Homo sapiens: one gene and its partners. The protein of the gene in region 2 interacts with the protein of the main gene of each other region in a biochemical or structural test. Each region holds a gene or a part of one and is shown on either strand. Other genes may lie near its edges.

Region 1 (3,490 bases), about 16 Mb from region 2:
GGGACCCGGGAGGACAGGGGACGCCTTCTCGCCCCCTCCCCCCTTCCGGCCGCCCAACCCCGCTTCCCGCCCCCGCCCTCCTCACCGGAAAAAAAGCAATCTCGCTGCCCGAGGAGGCTCCTGGCGTCCGCGGGCCGCCCGGGCTCCGCCGGGCTCCGCAGGGCCCTCGCCTGCGCCTCGGGCCTGGGGCCTGGGGCCCGGGGCCCGGCTGGATGCACGTCCCGGCCCCGGCCCCGGCCCCTCCGGGGGCTCGGGTTTTCTTCCCCAACAGGTAGCACGGGCCGCGCCGCGCGAGCCCAGGAAACCCGAGCCCGCGCCAGGGAGGGGCCGCCCGGCCTGGACGCGCCCGCCTCCCGCGGGGCCGAGCCCGCGGCCTCCTGGGGGCCCCAGCGCTGCGGGCCGCGCCTGCACCTGCCGTGGCCACGCCCGGCCGGGGACGGGCAGGCTCGTTTCCAGGGGTGTTCGGTGGTCGGATCCCCCGCCCCGCTTCAGATAACCCATTTGCAGGAAAATGGTTTTATTCCGGGGCTGGGAGTTGGGGGTGGGGTGCAGGCCTGGGTCGTGGAATGTGAGGAGTGGACAACCCTCTATTTTCCTCTCTCTCCCTTTCTTTTTTCCTGAAACAAACAAACAAACAAAAGTCCCTTCCTACAGTCTAGCCAGGAGGAGTTTGGGGGCTGGGGGCAGACTGAGGGAGATCCGAGAAGCAGATTTTGAGGACAGCCACCTCCAGACGGTTGTCTGCAAGGCCTTCAGTCGCTGACCTTTCAGCGGGCTTCAGGAGCCCGGCTGGGAGGCCGGCAGAGGCTGGTGGCCTGAGATCAGGGTGACACTCAGTTCCTCTCCAGGGCCTGCCACCCGTCCGGGAAGGGGGCACTGTGCCAGCCGCCCCTGGGGCACCGGCCTGCCCCTTCCCAGCTGGGGGCTCGGATGCTTCGCGGCCCTCAGGGTCCTCCCTCGGGGATCTGGCTCCCCTCCCGCCACCCCAGCCCAGTCCTTGGATTAAGAAGGGAAAGGGGTGGGGAGGCGGCCCAGGGGCTGCTGCCCCCTGCCTCCCAGACTACGTGAGGGGCTGGGGCCGCCGTGTGCGCTTGGTCCGGCGGGTGGGGGCGGAGCCCACAAACTCGAACTGCTTCTGCTTCTCGGCGTGGTTGGGGAAGGGCAGCTGGCCTTGGTAGAGGCGCTTGATGAAGTGGGCCTCGCGCTGGTTCTGGCGGCTGCGGGAAGCCTGGCGGGGCCGCCCCTGCCGCGTGAAGGCCATGAACCAGCCCTCGTGCCGGGCGTTCTGGAAGGCCGTATAGTTGTTCTCCAGCACGATCTCCGTGAACACGCAGTCTTTGCTCTTCCCGCTGGGCTGCGGGAGAAGCAAGGACAGGAAGGGCATTTGTCCACCTACCCTGGTCTGGGGTGTCGCCCTTACGGCCTATTTTGGACGACTGAGGAGGGACAACGGGAACAACGGGGCCGTGAGCCCAGGGAACTCTGCCTGGTGAGATGGCATCCTATTTAGAGAGGCAACAGTGGCCAACAAGAACACGCTTTGTGGATCTGAGTTGCAGGCTTGTCGTTTAGCGGTCCTGAACCAGGCTGGGCCTCAGCTTCCTGAGATGTAGGTGAAGATCAAGGACCTGCGGCATTTCCCAGCATGCACGGGCCCTTAGCACTGAAATGCTCATGCAGCCTAGGTGAGGGGTGCTGCTGGGCATGGGAGAGGAGGCAGCAGCCTCCAATGAGAAGAAAGAAGGGTGCCAGTGCAGCCACCCATCCCACTCTGTCTGCAATCAGGGGTCTGTGCCCATTTCTACAGACAAGAAGCCTGAGGCTTGACAAAGATAAGCAAACCAAAGGTTATTTGGTCAGCGACAGCCGAATGGGAAGCTGGGATTGCCTGGTTTCAAACGAAGTGGAATTCTCCCACCCAGCAGGGCCCGGCCTACCGTGTGCTTTGGTCACAGGGGCAGCTGCTTAGTGTCTATCTTGCTAGCTGGAGCCCACTGGCCCCACTGAACTTGGGGGAGTTCCTGTCTTACATCTGTGCCCCACTTTCCACCCTCAACAGCTCTTAGTCCTCCACCCAGAGGCTGCAGTGTCAGGTAGATGCTAAGCTCTTACTGATGCCTGCTGGAGAAATACTCCTGACATCAGCCCCACAGATCCCAGTGGCTTGCCAGTCCCCTCAGAGGGCTAATAGAGTCCCGGGGACTCATTTAAATAGAGAAACCAGGCCGGGCTCCGTGGCTCACGCCTGTAATCCCAGCACTTTGGGAGGCTGAGGTGGGAGGATCGCTTTAGCCCGTGAGTTTGAGACCAGCCAGGGCAACATAGTGAGGCCCTATCTCTACAAAAAAAAAAAAAAAAATTAGCTGGGCATGGTGGCATGCACCTATAGTGCCAGCTACTACTTCAGAGGCTGAGGCGAGAGGATTGCTTGAGCCCAGGAGTACAAAGCTGCAGTGGGCTATGATTGTGCCACTGCACTCCAGCCTAGGTAGCAGAGCAAGACCCGGACTCTAAAATAAAAACCAGAGAGTGGCCCAGTGGGTGGGCTGAGAGTAGGATGGGAAGTCTTTACACAGGAGGGTGTGTGGCTCAGAGGAGAGAGGGGAGCATGATGCCCTATATGTCCCCACCCCAGTAGGGCTGATTCTCTGTTACTTCCCAGTCTCCCAGCCTCACCTTCCCGATGAGCTTGCCCCTCTTGTTCATACAGATGTACTTCTCACTCTCAGCCCCTTTGATGCGAACCCGGCTGCCAAACGTGTCCGTCTCCACTATGAGCTTGGCTGTGGTGGGGGAGGGGAGAAAGACCTCCGTCCATCGGGGCTGCCGGCCTATGGCTACAGCAGGGGACCACCCAGCCACACTGACCTCCAGACTCAGGCGAAGGGGTTGGGGACACTCAGGCCCTTGGGGCCCTCAGCCCTGACACAGGATCTGGGGATGGACCAGGAGGTGAGGCAGGGTGGAAGTGAGGCAGAGTGGAGGTGTGGGTGCCCTGGGGGGAGGGCCAACTCTCACCAAACTTGTTGCCGTCCTCGGCGGTGGCGGAGATGCGACGCCCGGTGACCTGCACGTGCTTGCCACTGGTCCTGCTGTAGAGTTGGTACTCGCGGATCTGCCGCCTGCTCAGCTGGTCGGTCATGGCGCCCTGGTCCCTCACGTACTGGTTAAAATTAGGAGACGGGTGATTCTCCCCCTTTGCGGTTACCAAGGGAAAAATAGTGTCAATTTGCTTTGGGTGACACCACCACTGGTCCATCCAAGGGAGAGGGGTGAGGAGGTGAATATAGTGGGGACAGGCCACTTGTCCTGCAGAGTGAAGTGGGCATATGGCCATAGCCTTCCCAGGCCCCTGGGTGAGCCGGTCATAACCTCTTTGCTTTGCGTCTACCTTACAGAAGGGACTGGGGTCTGCCCAGGCTGGGGGACACTTATTGACAGAGCACAGCCCTGGAATCAGGACTCTGGGAGCTGGAAGGAGCCCTCAGGG
Region 2 (5,346 bases):
CCTGGCATTACCCAGGGGAGCCTTCAGGTTCCACACCTTCTTGGAGGCCAGATACTCCATGCCTCGGGCCACCTGGTAGGCGCAGGACACCAGGTCCTTGGAGGAGAGCTGCTCCTCTGGGTTGTGGCTGGGGTTGTAGCAGTATTCCAGCCCTGGGGGCCTCCGGGCCTGCAGGTACTCCCGCAGGTTGCCCTTGGAGGCATACTCCACGATGACATACAAGGGACCTGCAGGCACAGGAGAAGAGGCCATGGGGCCAGCAGCAGGTGAGCAGGTTTGGCTTCACCTCAAAGAAACCCCACCCCCAGCAGCACACCCCGGCCAACCTCCCATCTCCTGCCTCCTCTTAGGGGACCTGGGAAATCCATTCTACTACCCAAAAAAAATCAGAGAAATAATTACTCCCAGCATAGTCCAGAAAATTCCCGAGCAACATTGGGGTAAGAGCCCCAGTTTGTCTGTTTATTTTGAGATGGAGTCTCACTCTGTTGCCCAGGCTGGAGTGCAGTGGCGCAATTTCGGCTCACTGCAACCTCTGCCTTCTGGATTCAAGTGATTCTCCTGCCTCAGCCTCCCAAGCAGCTGGGATTACAGGCATGAACAATGCCTGGCTAATTTTTTTTTTTTTTTTTTTTTTTTTTGAGATGGAGTTTTGCTCGTTGCCCAAGCTGGAGTGCAATGGCGCGATCTCGGCTAACCGCAACCTCCGCCTCCCGTGTTCAAACGATTCTCCTGCCACAGCCTCCCGAGTAGCTGGAATTACAGGCATGCGCCACCACGCCCGGCTACTTTTTGTATTTTTAGTAGAGATGGGGTTTCACCTGTTGGCCAGGCTGGTCTCCAACTCCTGACCTCAAGTGATCCACCCGCCTCACCCTCCCAAGGTGCTGGGATTACAGGCGTGAGCCACTGTGCCTGGCCTATTTATTTATTTTATTTTTGAGACAGCGGGAGTATCTCCCAAGCTGGAGTACAATGGCGTGATCTTGGCTCACTGCAACCTCCACCTCCCGGGTTCAAGCAAGTCTTATGCGTCAGCCTCCTGAGTAGCTGGGATTATAGGCATGCGTGACCATGCCTGGCTAACTTTTGTATTTTTTAGTAGAGATGGGGTTTCACCATTTTGACCAGACTGGTCTCGAACTCCTGATCTCAAGTGATCTTCCTGCCTCGGCCTCCCAAATTGCTGGGATTACAGGCATGAGCCACTGCACCCAGCCTGAGCGCTCTTAGACCATAATTACTCAGCTGCCTCTGTTAACACACCACGTGTGTGAATCTAGGTATCTGTATTCCTGAATGAACACCAATGAGCGGAGCCCAGATCCCGAGATAACACATTTTAAACCTCTGCCAAAGCAGCCTCTCTTAACCCCCTTCCCTAGCTGTGGCTGAGAGAGGCCTTGGGACTGATACCCCAGCTCAGATCTTCTCCCCGCTGGGCAGGGAAAGCCAGTCTGGCCGGCACCCACCATCCTGCGTGCAGGCCCCCAGCAGGTTGATGATATTCTTATGCTTCCCGATCATCTTCATCATCTCCATTTCTGAGATCAGGTCTGACAAGTCTTTCTCTGTTGCGTCCGCTTTAAAGAACACGTTGAGACTCATTTACTTGGGAAGGGAGGAGGGCAGGATAAAGGCTAAGGGAGTGGGGTATGTGTCGAGGGGCTGCTTTTCCCTGGGACTTGATTCTCTCCTCCCCACTTCATCCAAACTTGTTTTCTCTTCCCTCTCATGGGAGCCGTTGTTGCAATAGGTGGTAGTGAGTGGGCAGGGATGTGGTGAGGAAAGCCTGCAAGCGATGGATCCAGGATAAACACCTGACCACAGCCCAGGTTGACGCCAAGGAACAGAGTGACGTCATAGAACAATCTCAAGGTGCAGAACACCCCCTCCACTCCCAGGTAACCCCAAGCAGGCAGCGGAGCAGGTGTGGGCAGCAAAGGCACCAGAGAAGCTGTTCTGCTGGGCCCGAGGCCTGCTGTTTGCTTGGAATGGGACAAGATTTTCTTTGCAAGGACAGAAGCATCACTTACACTTCAACATCTTCACAGCCACTTTGGTCACACGGTTGGGTTTGTCCTTGTCCAGCCCGATAGCCTCTGCCAACACCACCTGCCCAAAGCAGCCCTCTCCCAGGGGTTTGCCTAAGACCAGTCTTTCGGGGGAAACAGAGAGTGGCATAAGTTGGGGCTGGTGAAGTTCAAACCTTGAGAGGCACCCCATCTCCACCTCTCTGTATTTCACCCAACTGCGAGCAGAAAGTGGAATGAATGTTTCTGCAGGCATTTCATGAACCTTCACCGCCCAGAAGGTGTTAGTATACACACCTTCCACCACTAGAATAGCAAGCAAGGAATGCCTTCAAAAAGTTGGGAGTCAAAGTATTATTACCTGTCCCGAGGCAGCTCCCAGCGAGGGTCTTCGGGAAGCTCATACTCAGAGACCCCTGCTAGCATGGGAGTCCCACTGGAGGAGAGCCGTGATGGCCGAACCAGAAGAACCCCAGAGTTCATGGATGCACTGGAGTCAGCAGACACCTGCAAGGAAGAGTGGGGTCACCCTAGAGCAAGGAGGGGGGACGGGGTGACTCCTTCCCATTCTTAGTCAGGGCTTCCCAACAATGGCAGAGGCACATGTCTGTGTATCTGATGTTCTTTCCTCAACACAGAGTGGTCCAAAGACCATGGTAGGCCAGGAGGCCCAACTTCTAGGACTGACCTATTTCTGCCACAAGCTGGCCTTTCTGGACTTCACTCACCTTTAAAATAAGCAGACCAAATGCACCTCTTCCAGCTTGACATTTTATAACTGATCATTGCAGTAACAACTCTGTTCTCCTGACTCTTTGCAAATACTTTGCCTTAGCTTATGGATTCCTAACTCCCAAAGCACCTTCCAGAATGAGCACAGGCTTCTGAGGGAACGGTCATTCTTGCACACACCTGTGCCATCTGTACCATTTCCTCCCGTGGGGAAGGGTGGGCACACAGGGGACAAGGGTATGGTATGGCTGAGATGGTTTGGCTGTGTCCCCACCCAAATCTCATCTTGAATTCCCACGTGTTATGGGAGGGACCTGGTAGGAGGTCATTGACTCATGGGGGCAGGTCTTCCCTGTGCTGTTCTTGTGATAGTGAATAAATCTCACGAGATCTGATGATTTTATAAAGGGGAGTTTCCCTGTACAAGCTCTCTTCTCGTCTGCCGCCATGTGAGACGTGCCTTTTGCCTTCTGCAATTGTGAGGCCTCCCCAGCCACGTGGAACTGTGAGTCCATTAAACCTCTTTCTTTTGTAAATTGCCCGGTCTTGGGTATGTCTTTCTCAGCAGTGTGAAAATGGACTAATACAAACAGTTCTCTTCTCTACCCTGCATCTCTGCACTTCTAAGCAGCCCTTGGGGACAGTTCAAATTCATGCTATTGGCTGCACATTCTGTCCAAATAGGACTTCCTCCCAATCCATGTCCCAGGAGTCCGGAGGACTTGCAGTGTGATATGGAGGGTGCAGGAAATTCACGGGCTACACTAGCTTGAAACAGACTCTAGAGCACTTAGTTCATGATATTCCACTGTGCCTTGCCCAGAAGCCAGAAAATAAGGCCCAAAGCTATAAATTAGGGACAATGGAGAGGGCAGGGCATTAGAGGCCCAGAGAGAGAGGTGGTGCTGAGTGTGCAAATCCCCCATCTACTTTCTGTTACCTGTCTGCGCAGAGGGATGCTCTTGGCCAGCTTGTGCACAGCCATCTGGCTGTGGAAGTCACTCTTCTTGGTACCACTCTTCATCTTGTAGACGATGACCGACCCCACCATGCAGGAGATGAGGAAGGCCCCTGTGCAATAGATGATGATCTCCAGGTACAGGGGCGAGGTCATCACTGCCGGCCTCTCTTCCAGGGCTGAGTCAGTGCGAACAGGGTGTTAGCAGGCTTGGAGGGCCCCGTCCATGCGAGGTCCCGCTCCATTAGAAAAGCAACACCTGTCTCCTGTCCCCTGGGAACTTTTAGGGAGAAGAACCATGGCAAGTTCTAGCTAGGACTGGGATTGTGGCACTAGGAGGATCAGGCAACCCCCTGATTTTGGAGGCTGCCTTCAATGGACTTGAGCCATGGAAAAGGGATGGCCTAGAACCATCGTGCTACACAAGCCCCATCTTCATTAATTCCTGAGCCTCCTTGCTCAGCTGGACTGGAGAGGTACAGGCACCCAGGGATCCTGCAAGGGCCAGCTGAGAAGTCACTTCTATGTGCCTTTCTTGGTCTCCTCAGGGAGCCATGGCCCTTCTCTGCAAAGCCTCAGCACTGTGTGCATGCACTTAACATGCGGGGACACAGATGTTTCTGAGTCCTCTGTCCCTAAGAAGACACGGGGTCCCTGAGGGCAGGGTTGGTGCCTCGTTTATTTCTGCAGGCCACAGTACCTGGTGATGGTGGCACTCACAGAATGAGGACAGAGGACAGGAGGGGAACCAGCCTGTGCCTTGCTCAATGTCCCACTTTGGGTCTGTGTCATCTCTGTAGGGGCACACAGGTAAATATTTATTCCTAGCCAAACCACAGGCAAAGCTGACTTAATTTCCAAAAATAAGCTTTTTTGGTAGTTCTTTCAAATTCTACTCATAGGCCCCAACTCCTAAAACTTAAGGAAATGTGGCGGCAGGGGGCGGAGTTCCATTTTGTTATTCTCTTCTCCCACCTTCTGATTAGGACTCACCCCCCACCCCATTGCCACAGCAGCTAAGCCAGTTCGGTCCACCTTTCCCTTCAGCACGAGAGGCTGGGAGGCTTTCATCCCAGCACGCACAGCACTGGTTTCATGGAACACGCTTTGCCCCACGGGTGTGGACGGCCCTCCTCCTTCCACAGGCCTCCTCCCAACCTTCCCCTTTAAAACCCACCAGCCAACCATGGAGGCGGCGCCCCTGGGAACCTTCCCAGAGAGGCATGAGGCATGAGGCACGACCCTAGACTGAGCCCAGAGAACGTCCCAAGGCCTGACAAGGAGACAGCAGAGCTGATGACAGGGAGAAGTGTTGCTGTTTTTTCTTTCCCTGATGTTGAGGAACGAAGACAACTGATTGGGAGCACATGGGGAGCACGGACAGGACCAAGACAGGGACGATGATAAAAACAGAACGCTTCTCTGCCTCCAGCAGGGGCATCCGGAGACCCTGACGGGCAAGCAGGGCAGAGTGGGAAAGGAGGGGAGAGAGAAGAGGGCAGTGCCAGCAGGAACAGCCAGACCCACATGCAGGACATTCCGAGAGACAGCAGCAAGCCCTGGCCCCGCAGTCACCAGCCACCACCCTGAGCAGGCTGCAGGCTCCTTCCTCCCTGGCTCAAC
Region 3 (3,500 bases), on a different chromosome or scaffold from region 2:
CGTTATTTCTGAGGATGAACTGCAAGTGGTATTGTAGATTATATTTAGCTTAGATACCCCTTTGTTTCTTTCTGCTTTACCTGAAATGGGAGCACAATATTCAAAGACTCAATCAACCATTTTTTTTCCACTTTGCAACTAGTTTAGGCAAGCTTAAAAAGGTTTAGCTATTATTTTTATATTATTATTTAGTTATTGTTTCAAAATAGAGGGAAGACATAGGTGATTTAATATCCTTTCGAATTTTGAAAATAATTTTGGGACGCAGCGTATGGTCAGGTAAGTTATAATTTGATCATCTTGTGAGTAATGGACAATGACTGCACCTATTATAAACATCTGTGAATGTGAAAGGGGAGTTCTGAAGGACTGAAGCCTAGAGGACTTCTTTACTTTTTGTAAGGAATCACTCCAGTTTTTCTGTTCTTTGGTGAGGATGATCAAGTTTGCCTATCAAATTATTTTTGGAAAGGAGCTCCAGAATTTTGTTTGAGGATTGTTGGATCAGTAGCTTATAGTTCTATATGTGTATATTTTGAATCAAAACTAAATGCCAGTTAAAAGAGCCTCCTGGAGGAAAGTGAGTTAAGGGCATACTGGATCTCCCCGTGTTTCTTACAAGTTTATGACTCTACAATTACCTTAACATTAAAAGCTATAAAAAAAGGTTTTTTTTTTTTTAACTCAAAGAAACACCTGAAAATTATATTATTAATGAAAGGACACATGAATTATATTTCCCATTCATGTAAAACAGATATTTTGTAAATTTATAGGCATATTCTTGTAGTGAAATTCTATTATTTATATTAAGTTGTAACTATATTAGTTTTTATGTCCCTTAAAACATGAATAGCCCAGGTAGTATTGTGAATCTATTTAAGGGTCTTTGGACAATTTAGTTCAATCACTTAGGAAGACCTAGGAGGAGAAGGGTACGCTTTTAGAAAATGAAAATATAAAGTCAAATACGTAATGGCTTTTCTATTGATAAGTCTATGTACTATTGGGAATAAAAGACAAACACAGATAATTACAATAAAACATGTTACATGGCAGTAAGTGATGACTTAAGATGATGACAAGGGGACTATGGGGCAAAGGTAAAGGCAGGTCATACTGGCTGGGGTTCCACGATCAAATTATTGTTGGAGATGAGACCTGAACTGAGTCATGAAGGTTAAGAAGTGTCCAGGGGAAGGCTGGGAAGGGTGGGAAGGCAAGAGCAAATTATTAAGGTAAAACAGTATGGTGTTTTCAAATATCATAAGAGGTTTGATTTACCAACTGGAGTACAAGGAACAAGTCAGGAAGCTGGGAAAAGTGAAGTTGGGAGATAATGAGACTCAGTTTAGTAAACATCTTGTGCAGATTCTAAGAATTTTGGCAACTAGGAAGGATTTTGTCTACAAATATAAAATTGTTTAAAGAATACATTAGAAATAAAGTAATATTTAGCAAATTTCTTCAGTAAATAGTAGCAATCTATAAAGCTTATTTTAGATTATATTTAAAATCTTAAAAAATAAAGTTTGATAGTCAACATTACAAAAGCGATTATGACAAAAATCAGTTCATATTACTTTGCGAATGTTCCCTCATGATGCATCATCACCTTAGTAATGGAGAAAATTTTGTGACTTGATAATCTCTGAGTGGAAATAACTTAGAAGTCACAATTTTCGTGTAAATGCATTTTTTTCTTTTAATACTCATATATATAATTGTTTGGGCTGGTAATGTTTTGATGAGTGACTAAATAGTTAATCTGAGAAGGTGGCCATTCACAAGCATCTTTCCCAGCTGCTGCTTCTCATTCTTCTCCAGAAGAGGAGCATCTGACCTATTGTCCCCCTAGCAATCATGTTGGACAAAGGCTTCTTCTGTTTTGGTGCTATTAGAATGAAAAAGCTATTGGTCTGGAGGGTAAGTTTCTCACTAAATATTTTTCCATAAACACAAAAGGAGAAAGTATATGGCAAATAAAACTTGTATTTAATAGAATGGATATAGACAAGGAAAACTAGATGTGAAAAATAAGTGCAAAATCCTTCTATCCACTCCTAGATAAATAGAACATAAATATACAATGGAATTCTATAGACTGAGTAAATTAATTCAGCTAATGTGTATTAAGCACCAGTGTGCAGGGTAGGTGTTAGCTCTCATTCTGAAGGTTACAAAGGCAAACAAGATGTGGTCCTTGCCTCAAGGAGTTTTAAAGCTCAATAAAATAAAGACCCAAATAAGTAATGACAATACAAAAAAAAAAAAAAACCAGAAAGAAAATATATTAAGTGTGGTATGAGAGATAAAATATGTTATACATTACTTTAAATAGTGAAGCCATCCTGAAGAAGACAGCTGGTGTTTGAGGTGACTTTTCAAGAGCAGGGTTTTAATAGGGGGGATTTGGGAAGTTGAGAAGGAACATTCCAGGGAGAGAAAGTGCATGCATAAAAACAGGCTTGGAGAGAGAAAGAGCTCAAGTGCTTGAGCCACATTTCTCCCCACCTCCCCCAATGGCACTTTGAGGTGGCCACTAGCTAAAACTAAAGGTTCTGCTTCATTGAGTGGTAGTGGTGCTTTTCTGGGTGAGGAATGTACTTTCCAAAAAAAAATTATTGTGAAACGTGGAAAGTCTCATTAATTCAGAATCAGTCACATCTATTTTTCTCTAAACATTTTAACTTGAAATTGATTATAATGCTATATAGTTTTATAGTTTTAATCAAGGTGCTGAAACATATCATAGTTAGCACAATGTAAGACACAAATACTAACCTCTCTAAATGAAACCTCTCTCTCCCAAGAATTGTTGTCAGTGTCCTAAGTTCATCTATTATATCCTAGCACAGAAGGACTTAGGGAGCTCCTTGGGGTTGTTATCACATTTTCACTAATACCTCTGGGATTATGTGGCCATACCATAGTGTGAGTCTAAATGGCTCTAAATGTGGTTTTACCTCTCTTTAAAAATGAAACAAAGTTAAATGAAGTGAAGCCTCAAAACATTATGGGAACTGTAATGTCCCATGGACCAATATTGGAACTGGGCCACACAGCGGGAGGCAAGCCATAGGCAAGCGAGAGCGAGGTTTCAACTGTATTTAGCCACTCTCCATCACTAGCATTACTGCCTGAGCACTGCCTCTTATCAGATCAGTGGCAGCATTAGATTCTCACAGGAGTGCGAACCCTACTGTGAACAATGCAAGGAAGGGATCTAGGTTGCACACTCCATATGAGAATCTAACTAATACCTGATAATCTGGGGTGGAACAGTTTCATCTACAAACCATCTCCTCATTCCCTTTCGTGTAAAAAATTGTCTTCCACGAAACCAGTCTCTGCTGCCAAAAAGGTTGGGGACCGCTGGCCTATAGCTCATAGGGTTGCAAAGAATCTCAGAGAGTGGGTGCTAAATATATATTTACTGTGTGCTCAATCAGAATAGTGGCAAGTTAACCAACCTTCTATACCAATAGTTCTCAAATATG

The links. Proteins that work in one complex are often made in the same cells at the same time.
Region 1: the proteins of FGFR1 (region 2) and FGF17 interact in a test that uses a peptide from one of them, tested with the Homo sapiens proteins (one study listed by BioGRID).
Region 3: the proteins of FGFR1 (region 2) and FGF10 interact in a test that uses a peptide from one of them, tested with the Homo sapiens proteins (one study listed by BioGRID).

What each region holds. Positions count from the first base shown.
Region 1 is NC_000008.11:22,045,820-22,049,309, reverse strand, and holds the end of FGF17 (fibroblast growth factor 17 isoform 1 precursor), read right to left. Parts: exon of another isoform or gene 3,338-3,490; coding exon of another isoform or gene 3,197-3,337; coding exon 3,019-3,196; intron 2,784-3,018; coding exon 2,677-2,783; intron 1,355-2,676; coding exon 1,061-1,354; 3' UTR 501-1,060; downstream 1-500. UniProt on the Homo sapiens protein: Plays an important role in the regulation of embryonic development and as signaling molecule in the induction and patterning of the embryonic brain. Required for normal brain development.
Region 2 is NC_000008.11:38,415,834-38,421,179, forward strand, and holds part of FGFR1 (fibroblast growth factor receptor 1 isoform 1 precursor), read right to left. Parts: intron 3,903-5,346; coding exon 3,700-3,902; intron 2,541-3,699; coding exon 2,395-2,540; intron 2,159-2,394; coding exon 2,037-2,158; intron 1,584-2,036; coding exon 1,473-1,583; intron 228-1,472; coding exon 37-227; intron 1-36. UniProt on the Homo sapiens protein: Tyrosine-protein kinase that acts as a cell-surface receptor for fibroblast growth factors and plays an essential role in the regulation of embryonic development, cell proliferation, differentiation and migration.
Region 3 is NC_000005.10:44,312,921-44,316,420, forward strand, and holds part of FGF10 (fibroblast growth factor 10 precursor), read right to left. Parts: intron 1-3,500. UniProt on the Homo sapiens protein: Plays an important role in the regulation of embryonic development, cell proliferation and cell differentiation. Required for normal branching morphogenesis. May play a role in wound healing.